Linked DNA regions of Homo sapiens: region 2 is linked to region 1. Evidence: fine-mapped expression QTL. A gene starts in region 1. The other region holds a variant in brackets. All regions are shown on one strand. Distances are from middle to middle.

What was found.
Region 2: its variant is fine-mapped to the expression of NT5M in whole blood (TOPMed, PIP above 0.99).

What each region holds. Positions count from the first base shown.
Region 1 is chr17:17,302,241-17,305,152 of GRCh38, forward strand. NT5M (5',3'-nucleotidase, mitochondrial) reads left to right here and starts at 1,133. Exons shown (of 5, transcript NM_020201.4): 1 at 1,133-1,577. The coding sequence starts at 1,311. RefSeq lists silencers at 1,063-1,232, 1,283-1,382, 1,513-1,702.
Region 2 is chr17:17,251,050-17,253,961 of GRCh38, forward strand. The region is part of intron 9 of COPS3 (COP9 signalosome subunit 3); the gene reads right to left. Among named protein-coding and RNA genes, the nearest start is that of FLCN, 15 kb to the left of the region's middle. RefSeq lists a silencer at 141-243. The variant T/C (reference allele first, on the strand shown) is at 1,131.

The DNA of each region.
Region 1 (2,912 bases):
AGAATACTTCACAGTCATAAAAAAAGAATAAGATCATGTCTTTTGCAGCCATATGGATGGAGCTGGAGACAATTATCCTAAGCAAACACAGGAACAGAAAATTAAATACCTCATGCTCTCACTTAAAAGCGGGAACTAAACATTAAGTAAACATGGACGTAATGATGGGGACAACAGACACGGTGACCTACTTGAGGGTGGAGAGTGGGAGGAGGGTGAGGATGGAAAAACTACCTATCAGGAACTACGCTTATTACCTGGGTAATAATAATCTGTACACTAAACCCCCAAGACAGTCAATTTATATAACAAATCTGCACATGTATCCCTGTACTTAAAAGTTGAAAAGAGGCCGGGCGCGGTGGCTCACGCCTGTAATCCCAGCACTTTGGGAGGCTGAGGTGGGAGGATCGTTTGAGCCCAACATAGGAAGACTCCTGTCTCAAAAAAAAAAAAAAAAAAAAAAAAATTACCAGGGTGTGGTGGCAGGCCCCTGTGGTCCCAGCTACTCAGGAGGCAGAAGCAGGACGATCCCTTGGGCCCAGAAACTCAAGGCTGCAGGGAACCGAGATCATGCCACTGCTTCCACCCTGGGTAACAGAGCAAGACCCCGTCTCCAAAAAAAAAAAAAAAAAAAAGCAATACAGGGGTACTTAATATTTATTCATATATTTACCTGAGAATCATCAGTTTTACTAAGGCTGTATGATGTTAGCAGATATTGGTTCTATCAGTCTCTCCGCAGACATTTGCTGTAAATAAAGCAGAGAGGCTTTCAGAGTGCACCCTGTTTTTGTTCCTCCATCCTGTTGTCTGGATCCCCTTCTAAAACGTAAGTTCCAGGATGGCAGGAACTTTGTCTATTTGGTTCACACTCGACACAGTTAGTGCTCAAAAATGTCTAACGACACAGGCCTGCTTCTCGGTTTGCACTGCTCCTCCATGGTAGTCTGTGCAGTGGGAGAAGGCAGCCCGGGCCCAGGGTCCACGGAGAAGACGCAAATCGACAGCGCGGGAGCGCGGACCTTCTGGAGGCGCGCGGCGCTTACCGCTGTCCGTCCTCGAAGCCCCGCCCCGGGGCTCCGCCTCCGCCGGCGCGTGTTCCTTTAGGGACCGCGCGCGCCGCGGCCTCGCTCTGGGGCCGGTACTTGCGCGCCCGCACCCCGCGCTCCCCGCCCCGCTCCCCGTCCCGCGCTCCACGCGCGCCCCAGCGTTGGGGGCTTCTCCTCCGCGGCGGGAATGTCTGGCCGGCTCCGGCAGCACGGCGCGGCCCAGGTCCCCGCGCCCACGACGGGCCAGCGCGCTGGGCCATGATCCGGCTGGGCGGCTGGTGTGCGCGGCGGCTCTGCAGCGCGGCGGTTCCCGCGGGGCGGCGCGGGGCGGCGGGCGGGCTGGGCCTGGCGGGAGGCCGCGCCCTACGGGTGCTGGTGGACATGGACGGCGTGCTGGCTGACTTCGAGGGCGGATTCCTCAGGAAGTTCCGCGCGCGCTTTCCCGACCAGCCCTTCATCGCGCTGGAGGACCGGCGCGGCTTCTGGGTGTCGGAGCAGTACGGCCGCCTGCGGCCAGGGCTGAGCGTGAGCGTCCCCGCCCCGCCCCGCGCCGGGCCTCCTTCTCGCCCCGAGCCCCAGACACCGCCCCTGCGCCGGTGACCTTGGACGGTCAGCGCCCCAGCCTCGGGGTGGCCCTCTGATAGAATAGGGTCTGGGGGGGACTAGGGGCCACAGCGCACCGGGAAGATGCGGCCCCGCGCTCAGGATCTGTTGGCTGCCATCCAAGGTTTCTGAAAATGCGGGAGAGTACAAAGTGTTAATATACCTAACTCTGCATTTAAAGCTGACTTCAAAATTTGTGGCATATTTGGCCTCAAGTCGTTTGTTAAATTTTTAGAAAAATAAACGTTATAAGTTGTCCTCTTTCACCCCGACCGCAGTCACATTCCCACTTCTTTGTCCCCAGGACTTTGATGGGTGTCTTTACCCATCTTTTTTACTGTTGTCCATGAAAGCATAGCTTCCAGGGGTATTTGAGGCCCAGAGAGGTTGTGTGACTTTCTGGGGGTCACACAGTGAGTCAGTGGTCCAGGTGAGGTGGGATCCACCTCATGTCTTATCCCCTTGCAGAGCTGGCCTTGCTGAACACCTGAGCTCAACCCCTACCATCCGACTCCCGAGGTGTTCTGTCCAGGATGGATAGAGGGGAAAGATCCAAGGAGGGACGTTTACACACAGATCTTGGTTGGTAAATTTGAAGTATTTTGCAAAAGGAACAGGGGATTTTGGTATGCACAAAATTAAAGAGGCTGAGTGTTTTTTGGCATCCCTTGATTGGCCACCTAGGGTTGCTGCTGGAGGGTTTGATAAAGAGGAGAAGGAAGTTACAAGAGCCCGTTTTTTAGCCACAAGTTCACTGCATCCTCTCTTTTGTTGGGTAGATATTATTATCTCTGTTTTCCAGATGAGGAAACTTGCCCCAAGTCACATGCTGCTCAGGGGCTCAGTCAGGACTCAAACCCAAGTCTGTCTGCCTCCCAAGCACAGTTAGTGCTCCCCACTCCACAGTCCTGTTCTCTGTACTACTGTCTCTAACAAGTGACATTTCTTCTGACATCAGAAAGATGCCTCATCAGTAATGTGGTTTGTTGAGGGACAGGTGTTAAAAAAGGAAACCAAGTACCGTTTGTCTCCATCAACACCAGGCACTTCAGAAGGTGACTTTCACAGAGCCCAGTGTGCTGAGCTCTTCTACAGCGGATGCCTAATGATAAACTTTAAACTGGAGAAAATGCCCTGGTACTTTCTGCAGCCTCAGGAATAGGCTCCAGTGTGTGGCGAGTGTTCATTTATAGGCAGCGCTCGGCATGGGGAGTCTGGACACCATATATCCGCCCGGGAGTGTATTAACGTGGAAAC
Region 2 (2,912 bases), 51 kb before region 1:
AGTGGCGCAATCTCAGCTCACTGCAAGCTCCACCTCCCAGGTTCATGCCATTCTCCTGCCTCAGCCTCCCGAGTAGCTGGGACTACAGGCATCTGCCACCACGCCTGGCTAATTTTTTGTACTTTTAGTAGAGACGGGGTTTCACTATGTTAGCCAGGATGCTCTCGATCTCCTGACCTCATGATCTGCCCGCCTCAGCCTCCCAAAGTGCTGGAATTACAGGTGTGAGCCACCATACCCGGCCTATTTATTTATTTTTTTGGAGACGGAGTTTCGCTCTTGTCACCCAGGCTGGAGTGCAATGGTGTGATCTCCAGTCACTGCAACCTCCGCCTCCTGGGTTTGAGCGATTCTCCAGCCTCAGCCTCCCAAGTAGCTGGGATTACAGGCGCCCGCCATCATGCCTAGCTAATTTTTTTTGTATTTTTAGTAGAGACGGGGTTTCACCATGTTGGCCAGGCTGGTCTTGAACTCCTGACCTCAGGTGAGCTGCCTGCCTCAGCCTCCCAAAGTGCTGAGATTACAGGCACCACGCCCAGCCTGTCCAACTAATTAAAATGGAAAGGTGTATCAAACACTGGAACATTGTAGCCCTGAAAACGAATGAACTACGGCTACATACAGCATCATGCATGACTCTCACAATGCTGAGCCAAAAAACCAGATTCCCAGAAAGAATGTGCTGTGTGTTTCCTTCTACATCAAACTCAGAAACAAACAGAACTAAAATAGGATGTTAGAAGTCAGGATGGGAGGCCGGGCACGGTGGCTCATGCCTGTAATCCCAGCACTTTGGGAGGCCGAGGTCAGGAGATCAAGACCATCCTGGCTAACATGGTGAAACCCCGTCTCTACTAAAAATACAAAAAATTAGCCAGGCGTAGTGGTGGGCGCCTGTAGTCCCAGCTACTCGGGAGGCTGAGGCAGGAGAATGGCGTGAACCTGGGAGGTGGAGCTTGCAGTGAGCTGAGATCGCACCACTGCACTCCAGCCTGGGTGACAGAGCAAGACTCCGTCTCAAAAAAAAAAAGTCAGGATGGGAACAACCTTTCTAGAGAGGCACAGGGCTGGAAGCAGACACAAGGGATATTTTCCGGGTGCTGGTCATATTCTGTTCCTTCTTCTAGGTG[T/C]TGGAATCTTTGTGAAAATGTGTTTAGCCGTACACTTAAGTGTACTTTTCCAATGTTTACTTTAAAAAACAAACAAACAAAAAAAAACCCTGGTCTCACAGACCTTTCATTCCAGAAGGGTTTCTCAAGCCTGGCAGTCCTGACATTTGGGGGCAGATAACGCTTTGGTGTGTGGGCTGTCCAGGGTACAGATAACGCTTTGGTGTGTGGGCTGTCCTGGGTACAGATAACGCTTTGGTGTGTGGGCTGTCCTGGGTACAGATAACGCTTTGGTGTGTGGGCTGTCCTGGGCACTGCAGGACGTTTAGCAGCATCCCTGGCCCGTACCCATTAGACGCCAGTAGCACCCCCATCTGTGAAAACCAAAACTGCTTCCAGACGTTGCCTAATGTCTCCTGGCAGACAAAATCACCCTCAGAGGAGAACCACTGCTCCAGAGCCTGTCAGGGTGTCTGGGCTGGTTAAGCAGGGCTCAAAACTCACACCCACTTTGACCCCGCAACGCGTTGCTAGCTAGTATGTCCTGTCTGGTGTCATAACCACTCATGTATTTCTTCTCACTCGCCACTGAAGAGGGAATTTCTTGGGGAAAGCGTCTATAGCTTATTCTGTGTAACCCCTGTGGGGTTACCAAGATGCTCTTAGCAGACACAAGTCATAGAGGTATGGTTTTGTTTGGTGTGTGCATGTTTTGAATGGTAGGTTGAAGCAAAAAACCCTTTAGAACACTTGTAAATTCAACTATCAAAATGAAATACTCAGCTGGGTGCAGTGGCTGTATCCAGCTGTAATCCCAGCACTTTGGGAGGCCAAGGTGGGAAGGTCACTTGAGGCCAGAAATCTCAAGTTATGCCTGGCCAACATAAAGAGACCCTGCCTGTACAAAAAATTTAAAAATTAGCTGGGTGTGGTGGCACACATCTGTAGTCACAGCTACTTGGGAGGCTGAGGTGAGAGGATCATTTAAGCCTAGGCAGTCAAGGCTGCAGTGAGCCATGATTACGCCACTGCACTCCAGCCTGGGCAACACAGGAAGACCTTGTCTCAATCAATCAATCAATCAATCAAAATACTCCAAATTCTGAAATCATACAAGGGGTCATATGAAGCTTTGCCTGTCCTGAGCTAAGGACACAGGTTTTCAGTGAACTAAAACCAGATCAGAACTATGTACTTATGTAACTGAATAGGTAGGTAGATTACAATACATCAATGTGGTGGGTTATCATATAGTCATTTAAATGATGCTTATCCAAATCAGGAGTGGTTGCCTGGTTGGGGTGGGGCTGAGAGTGGGGAAATGCAACTGGCAGGTGATAAAGAGGGAGTGTCAGGGCACTGGTGCTATTTCATTTCCTAAGCTGGATGCTAAGTCCTGGGTGTGTGCTCTGGCCTCCTTTATGTCAGTGCTGCTTATGGACCAAAACCCTCAGTGACGGAAGAGGCTAAGTCAGAATGTCAGTCAATGATGTCGCTAAGCACACTGTGTAGTTCAGCAAACATTGTTCAGCAAGATTTCTTGCTGCAGCAGTTGCTTGATGTACGTACTGGCAAAAGCTTGTGATCTCATCACAGATAAGCAGAGGAAGTAGCCCTACCTTATACCTCTTTGTATACCAAAAATATTTCATGAGGGTTATGAGGTTTACAAAAATTCTGATAATGAAAATATGTAAATATAGCCGCCTGTAATACCAGCTACTCGGGAGGCTGAGACAGGAGAATTGTTTGAACCCTGGAGGTGGGGGTTGCAGTGAGCTAAGATCACACCACTGCACTCCA